Linked DNA regions of Homo sapiens: regions 1 and 3 are each linked to region 2. The links come from fine-mapping of genetic effects on gene expression. A gene starts in region 2. Each other region holds a variant in brackets. All regions are shown on one strand. Distances are between the middles of the regions.

Evidence for each region. PIP is the estimated chance that this variant, and not a neighbour inherited with it, causes the effect.
Region 1: its variant is fine-mapped to the expression of HOXA1 in whole blood (INTERVAL, PIP above 0.99).
Region 3: its variant is fine-mapped to the expression of HOXA1 in whole blood (INTERVAL, PIP above 0.99).

The regions. Positions count from the first base shown.
Region 1 is chr7:26,922,472-26,925,321 of GRCh38, forward strand. It overlaps the pseudogene RPL7AP38. Among named protein-coding and RNA genes, the nearest start is that of SKAP2, 59 kb to the left of the region's middle. The variant T/C (reference allele first, on the strand shown) is at 1,424.
Region 2 is chr7:27,094,773-27,097,272 of GRCh38, forward strand. It overlaps HOXA1 (homeobox A1), which reads right to left and starts at 1,228. Exons shown (of 2, transcript NM_005522.5): 1 at 489-1,228; 2 at 1-23. The coding sequence starts at 1,140. HOTAIRM1 (HOXA transcript antisense RNA, myeloid-specific 1) reads left to right here and starts at 1,322. Exons shown (of 2, transcript NR_038367.1): 1 at 1,322-1,616. RefSeq lists enhancers at 1-316, 1,198-1,492, 1,618-2,190 and a silencer at 1,545-1,714.
Region 3 is chr7:26,943,568-26,946,417 of GRCh38, forward strand. No RefSeq gene overlaps it. Among named protein-coding and RNA genes, the nearest start is that of SKAP2, 80 kb to the left of the region's middle. The variant GTATTTATT/G (reference allele first, on the strand shown) is at 1,573.

The DNA of each region.
Region 1 (2,850 bases), 170 kb before region 2:
GAAAGCTTGCAGCAAAGGGGACATCTCCACTAGGAGACCACTTGTCCTTCAAGCAGGAGTTAACACCGTCACCACCTTGGTGGAGAACAAGAAGGCTCAGCTGGTGGTGACTGTACATGATGTGGATCCCATCAAGCTTGTCTTCCTACCTGCCTTGTGTCATAAAATGGGGGTCTCTTCCCCTGCATTATCAAGAGGAAGGCAAGACTGGGACATATAGTCCACAGGAAGACCTGGATCACTGTCACCTTCACACAGGTGAACTTGGAAGACAAAGAAGCTTTGGCTAAGCTAGTGGAAGCTATCAGGACCAACTACAACAACAGATACGATGAGATCTGCCGTCACTGGGGAGGCAATGTCCTGGGTCCCAAATCTGTGGCTCGCATTGCCAAGCTTGAAAAGGCAAAGGCTAAAGAACTTGCCACCAAACTGGGTTAAATGCACACTGTTGAGATTTCTGTACATAAAAATAATTAAAATAATACAAATTTTAAGAAAAAGAAAAAGGGCAGGAGACCACCCATTGCAGTGGGCTATGCACTGGCTGAAGAATCCTTTTTTTTTTTTTTTTTTTTGAGACGGAGTCTTGCTCTGTCACCCAGGCTGGAGTGCAGTGGCATGATCCCAGCTCACTGCAAACTCTACCCCCCGGGTTCAAGTGATTCTTCTGCCTCAGCTGGGATTACAGTGATTCTTCTGCCTCAGCTGGGATTACAGGCACCTGCCACCATGCCCGGCTAATTTTTATATTTTTAGTAGTGACGGAGTTTCACCATGTTGGTCAGGCTGGTCTCGAACTCCTGGCCTCAAGTGATCTGCCCACTTCAGCCTCCCAAAAGAATCCTTCATCTTTAGTTTGCAGTGAGAAAGAAAGAACCACATAAGACTCTGCAATGGAGATACTGGAGTACAAGATTAGCCAGGGACAACTTTCTAGTTTAATGTGCAGAGTTCTGTGAATCTTTTTGTACTAAGTTTTCAGGAGTCTCCCCACCCTGAATTGGGTGTGCAGCCACTTTTTGATCCACTGGCACATAAGGCAGACACTGTGCCTAGTCTAAACAAGAAATGTTTCTCTCTTCTTCCCTGGTAACAAAACTCCAATTTGTATTCAGGTTTTTGAAAGAGATCCCTTGATTTCAGGAAGGGTAGACCCCTACCTCAACAACAAGGAATGAGCTGAAATTGGTCTAAATCAGTCATAGTAATTTTCTTTTCTTTCCTCAGGGATTGGCCAATAAGTGGGCACATGACTGAATCCTGGCCAAGGAGACAAAGGGAAAGTCCACTAGGGAAGGCTCTCTTGCTAATAAAAAGACAAGACTCCACAAGTAGAATGTCTCTACCAGTCTTCCTTCTTGTCCTGAACATGGACATGGTGACTGGAGCCATGGTAGCTATATTCTGGCCAGGAAAATGA[T/C]GAAGAAGCTGGCCCTGAAATCATTGGATTACTGAACTGACTCAGGCAACTGCCTACCTCCAGACTTCTTGTTATGTTAGAAATACAAAGCTCATTTGTTTAGGCCTGTACAGATGACTTTTCTATTTCTTGCAGTCAAATGCATTCTGATACTGTGCTTTGTCTACTTATTTCTTACCTCTGCCCTCTGACAGATGAGGCCCAACCCATTTTTCTTACTTGGCTTTATTTGAACAAAGATTCTAATAAGCACAAGAAACCACTCTGTTGATAACTCCTCTAATATAAAAGGAAAGAGTCATGTTCTGTAATAAGTATTTTGTATCCAATTGGTTTATAAATTGAAAACACAGTTTAAGCAGAAAGATAAAATCAAATACAGTCTCTTGCCTACTTACTTCTCATCTCTCTCTCTCATTTAGTTCAAAGAGACATAAAGTGACACCACTCCATCATTTTTGACAGAGCCACATGTGTAATGCAAAACATATGCTGAAGTTTTGTAATTACTTGGGTTCCTTGAGCAGAAGAGAAATGAGCTCATTGTATGTTCATGGTCTCTTCTCCTTCTGTGTCACCTGCTACCATACCAGGTTGATGCCCTCTCAGACATCAGTTACTACAAGCAATAATTATCATTATTATTCTAATGCCTTACATATGAATGCCGTTTGGCAATATTTCAGAGTGCTTTTAAGTTAGTTCTCTCCCTGAAGGCTCACAACTCTACCACTTACCTGTCATATCACTCCCATAAAAGATTACTGTAGAGACTCTGAGGGAAGGAATCCGCATTTTAGAGGAGAGATGTCATTTTCCTTCTCCCCTAAGTCTAGATCTGCTGCAGGCACAAATGGCCTCCTACTATCTGTTCAACCCCACTCCTCTCCTAAACTAATCATGACCAGCACCAAGAGGGGTGTGGAGTTAGTCTTGCTGTCTATAGCAAAGTAAAAATTCACAAGCCTGCCTATGGCCCTCTGGTCCTTCATCCTAGTGTAGGTATTTTTCCCACTCTGATCAGACCTCTGCTAGGATTTTCTAAGGTGATATTGGAATCTCTTACTGGAAGAAGAGTTCTATTCGAATCTTGGGCCTGATTCACTGCCAAGCCTTTGCTGATCACTTAGGCCCACAGACTAGATTTCTGTTCTAAACTGGATTGATCTTCTACTAAAATGTAAGTAATATGAAGCCAGAGAATGTGCTGTTATTTTACTGCACTATCCCTAGCACATAAAATAGATTCTCATTGGTTCACAGCAAGTGATTGGTAAATATCTGTTGAATGAATGAATGACTCTGATAACCATTCCTCACTAGAGGTTTCTGCTACTGTGTCCTAAACACCAGATTAAACCCCTTGGATACTGACATTAACCTAAGCCCATTCATAGCTGCCTTACCTCTTCAAATGACAAATATGA
Region 2 (2,500 bases):
GTAGCCGTACTCTCCAACTTTCCCTGGGGCAAAGTGGGAAGCCATGAGACGGAAATGTAAAAATTTTTAAATCGACTTGAGATTCCCCACACGCTTCATGGCAACACTCAGGTAAAGAAAAGATCAAGAACTCAGCACAAATCGGGCTGTGGAGGGTGAGTGATGAGGTGTAAAGTGTTAACCTGATGTAAACCATTAGCATGGTCAGACCGGTGATTAATGGAGCCTCAAGATATTAACAGAACACTACCGTCACAATAACCACCCCCACATACTTCCTATTTCCCAAATGTATAAAATCCTTGAAAACACACCAATCCCTGAGACTTCTTTGCCCCAACACCTCTGGGCACCCTCTCCATGCACTACAACACTAGTCTGATACAAAAGCCTTTTAAAAAAAAGATCATTATTAATTTCCTTGGAAATTAAGCATACCAGCTCCTTCCAGAATAATCAAGGAGCATCCACCAACCAGCAGGACTGACCTGTTTTGGGAGGGTTTCTTTTGACTTTCATCCAGTCAAAAGTCTGCGCTGGAGAAGATGTCTCCGATGCGGGGGAGCGACAGGCTTCTTGGTGGCTGGCGTGGAGAGGGGACAAGGAGTTATTATACGTAGCCAGGGCCAGGCTCTGGTGCTCCTGTCCATATGAGTGGTGAATGTATTGAGGCGAGCCCACCGCGCCCCCAGCATAACCCTGGTGGTGGTGGTGATGCTGGACCATGGGAGATGAGAGATTTCCAGAGTAAACAGCGGGAGCGCACTGGGGGTACCCACCACTTACGTCTGCTTCCTGATTTAACGCGTAGGGGCTGTAAGGCGCACTGAAGTTCTGTGAGCCATAGCTTGGACCACAACTTGAGTGGGAGTAGGACACCCCCAGGTTCCCGGAAGTCTGGTAGGTAGCCGGCTGGGGGTGGCGATGGTGGTGGTGGTGGTGGTGGTGGGGCGAACCGATCTGCACCCCCCTGCCCACTAGGAAGCGGTCGTCGCCGCCGCAACTGTTGGCGCTGACCGCGCACGACTGGAAAGTTGTAATCCTATGGTCCGAGGGGTAGGCTCGGGCTGAGCAGGTCCCCGAGTCGCCACTGCTAAGTATGGGGTATTCCAGGAAGGAGTTCATTCTTGCATTGTCCATCTGTCACTGAGTGACCTGGTCCTGCGAAGCCCGGCGTGACTGTGCCAACTTTCTCACTTCCTCCATGGGGCCGGAGAAGAAAAATGATATGAATGTACAGTGCGCAAGAGGGGGGGCGGGAGGGCGGAGGACGCTGGAGGAGGGGCACGTGACGGTGTCAGCCAATGGCTGAGCCTCCTGCAAAAGTTTGCCGGCTTCCGCAGTGATGGATCACCGTTTTAGTGGCATTTAAATCCCCGGCGCTCCGCCGTCTAGGTGACGCGCAGTCGCCCCCCCAGGCAGCCTAGGCGGCGGCAGCTGCTGCGGCGACTGCAAAGGCCGATTTGGAGTGCTGGAGCGAAGAAGAGCAAAAGCTGCGTTCTGCGCGCGCCCGACTCCGCTGCCCGCCCCGCCAGGCCTCCGGGAGGTGGGGGCTGGGAGGCGTCCCCCGCTCCCGCCCCCTCCCCACCGTTCAATGAAAGATGAACTGGCGAGAGGTGAGAAGGGAAGAGGGCTCCCGGCTCTCTCGGGGCGGGAATCAGTGGGCCAGAGCTCGCCGGGTGGCCGCAAGTACGCCGGCCCAGCCCGCAGCGCGCCCAGCCGGAAGGCGGGGAATCCGGCTGACACCGCGCCCCGGGTTCCCAGGCCACCTCCTCTGTTCTGAGGCTGGGCTGGGAGACCGTGGGGCTGTGAGGAGCGCATAGAACCGTGGTGGAGGGCGAGGCTGGGCCACCGGCTCTTCAAGCTCGGAATGGAGGGGGAAGAGCGCAGAGGGCTGGCTGGGAGGAACTCGGGTGGGCGTGAAGGAGACGAGGGCAAGAAAAGAAACTTCCCTTCTTCCAGGAGGGTCTTCGAAACCCTCTCCCCACAGCCCCTCTCGTCATTAGCATGGCAATGAGGAGTTTCTGTAATTCGACTTGGAGGGGCGGATGAGCCCTGGAAACTCAGAGCTCGCCGGAAAAGGCCGGGGGCGGCCGGGCTCTTCTTCCCCACCTTCCCTCTCTCGTCGCTCTCCGCCCCTTTCTCTTTCCCACTCAGTTTTGCACCGGGAGCCCTCCGGGATGCGGAGCTACTCGACCGCCGGATTTTTAGGGGTAGGAGGCGGGGGAGAGAGATGACGCTGGCGGACGTGGCCAGCGCGGGGGCCGGGCGGTGCGCTGCAGGCCATCTGCCGGCGCCCTGAGACCCAGGAGCCTCCGCGCTCCCGCGTGGGCCTCACAGGGCCGGTCCACAGCTCCAACATAGTAGCTGAACTCCCTTCGTTGCGTTCCTCTTTTTCTGGAGGGGAATGTTAGAAGAGAGAGAGAGCTTCCTTTTATAACCTTCCTCATTCTGCTGCACGTCTAGAGTGGGTGTGGGGGCTGGCAGGTGGGAGGGGCGG
Region 3 (2,850 bases), 150 kb before region 2:
AGATCATTACTACAGAAAATAACATCTAAATACTAACCACTTCAACTTCACTAGATCAGCTAAAACAACTAAAAGATTTAATGGAAGGGTGTTTATATTATGGAAGACAATTAGGTAAGACAGTTAATGTAAGAATAAGCTATCTTGTTAAGTAGGTCATCCAAAGAAAGGCATGTACTAAGTACTTCTATGTTTTAGCTAAAAAATATAAATAAATATGAAATGAACATATTAATATTACAGTTACAAATAAATAACAATAAAAACATTGTTTTAATTGGACATCCAGTACATCCCCAAATTTGTTTTTCAGTATTATCTTTCAAAGTCACTCAACCATAGCACACATTTTGTAAATGTCCTATATTTTACATGAATTGTATACAGGGCTTTTATTTAATTTTTCACATTTATTTTACACTGATATTTGACAACCAATTTTAAATTGGCATAATTAGCAATTACCTTAGTATTCCTGTTTTTCAGTCTGAATACTCTTCATTCAAATGATGATTAGTTTGTTTGTAGTAATTAGCATTTTAGCCAGGGAAATGGTTTACAAACTATGTTGCTTTACATCCATTTTGCTAAAGAGAAAAGAAAAGTGCTATTTACTTTAATACTAACTGTATTTTTTAAATTGTGCCTTAAATTCATTTATGAAATAAATTTGAAAAATCAGAAGGGCTTGGTGTATTTACCTACATCACTAATTAGACTATAATAGCTTCTTCTAAGAAGACTGCAGGTACTCTCCCTGCTCTTAATGGAATGTAGCAACTGTTTCTCAAATCACCCTCATGACAGCATTATGCAATTTTATCTGTCTATATTCTATTTCTACTTTATATTGTGGATACATTGGAGCCATATAGGAGTGTTTTCTATCATTGCAAAAGCCAGATAAAATAGTTTAACTACTACATCAAGTGGGAAATTATATATATAAATTGTCTGCTGCTGTCTATAGATTATGTCTGTAAAAGTTAAAAGCATTTTTCCCCTTTTAGAGAGAACACTCCCAATGCCTTCCTTTGCCTCATATATAAATTATCTTTTAAGGGACCAGGTGCAATAGGCAAAGAGTTGGCTGTCTTCCCAACCCAGCTTTGCATACTCGTAGAGCTAGGGGTCACAGAAATGCAGAATTTAGAGTACAAAGCCAAGTCAAGAATTATTTTCCTGCATCTTTTCCCTTAGGGGAGAGAAAGGGTGGTGGAATGGCAATTTGGGAGAAGTCATCTGAATTGAGATGAATTTAATTGCTTTTCCTGTTAATCTCCCTGCCTACACAGGTGGCTATGAGAGTCCTCTCTCCACAGATCCATGTCAGTGTCAACATTAAGAGGAACCGAGAATTTGGAAATCTGGTCCAGGCAGTTCTCCAGCTTTGTTCCAGATGCAGGATGAACACAATTCTATTGGAAGCATTTGTGTGCGTGACATGATTAGACAATTAATATCCAGCAGAACACCAGACCCTACTCCTCCCAAACAAGTTTGGAGTTAATCCTAGAAAGCGTAGGTCCTCAGTGGCATGGGACTTTTTGTAGAGTTGTTTGATACTCCATA[GTATTTATT/G]TATTTATTTATTTATTTATTTATTTATTTATTTATTTATTTATATGATTTTGAACTCTGTGAGACCTGCTCCAGAGTACTCTTGGGAGGACAAGAAATTTCTAACTAACTAGGAAATGACTAGCAGGGAGGCTGCCTTGGGATATTGTTCAGACAGAGAAAGTAAAATTACCCTTCACCTTGGTTTCTGCATTTGCTACCATTATCCCTCGATATTCCTATGCCCAGTATGCTATGGTCAAATGAGAAGATTCTTTTTACATTTTGCTCTATTTAAGAAAGGCAGTGCAATCCCATGCATTTCTAATGGACTAAGATCAAGTCTAACTTCTGAAGTGATTTTCAGGAAATGTCTTAGAACATAATTATCTTTTAGACACCAGTCAAGTTGGAAGCTGAGGAGACACACAGAGACTCTGCATTTTCTGTTCCTTGACCTAGAATGCTCTTCATATAGCCAGCTTCTCATACTTCAGGTCTTGGTCTAAATGTCACTTTCTCAAGGAGATCTTTCATTACCACCCTTTCTAGATTCCCTAAACCTCCATCCCCAGCACTTTATTTCTCTCCTTCATGAAATTATTACACAATTATTTTAATTGTGCACTTCCTTTCTTCTCTCTCTGCCCCACAAGAATGGAAGCTTCCTGTACTTCGAACACAGTATACCTATAGTGTATATACAGTATAACCAAGAAAGATTTATCAATGAAAGAGTACTGAAGGTAACTGAGGAACTTTACTGAAACATTTAAAACATTTTATTTTTGATAAGTATATCAGTCAGCTTCTACTATATTATTCAGCAATAATAACTCCAAAAATCTCAATACTTAAAAAAGATTGTTTCTTGCTCACTTTTTTTTTTTTTTAATGAGACGGAGTTTCGCTCTTGTTGCCCAGGCTGGAGTGCAAAGGTGTGATCGTGGCTCACTGCAACCTCCACCTCCTGGGTTCAGGTGATTCTCCTGCTTCAGTCTCCCAAGTAGCTGGGATTACAGGCATCTGACACCACGCCCAGCTAATTTTTTGCATTTTTAGTAAAGCCAAGTTTTCATCATGTTGGCCAGGATGGTCTCAAACTACTGACCTCAGGTGATCCACCCACCTCAGCCTCCCGAAGTGCTGGGATTACAGGCGTGAGCCACCATGCCCGGCCCTCTTGCTTACTTTTTATGTGAGCTGCAGCTTTGCCCCTGTGGTCTTCATTCCTTGGCCCAGGTTGATGCAGTGGACCCTATCTGGGACATTCCCTGAATCATCTCATTCT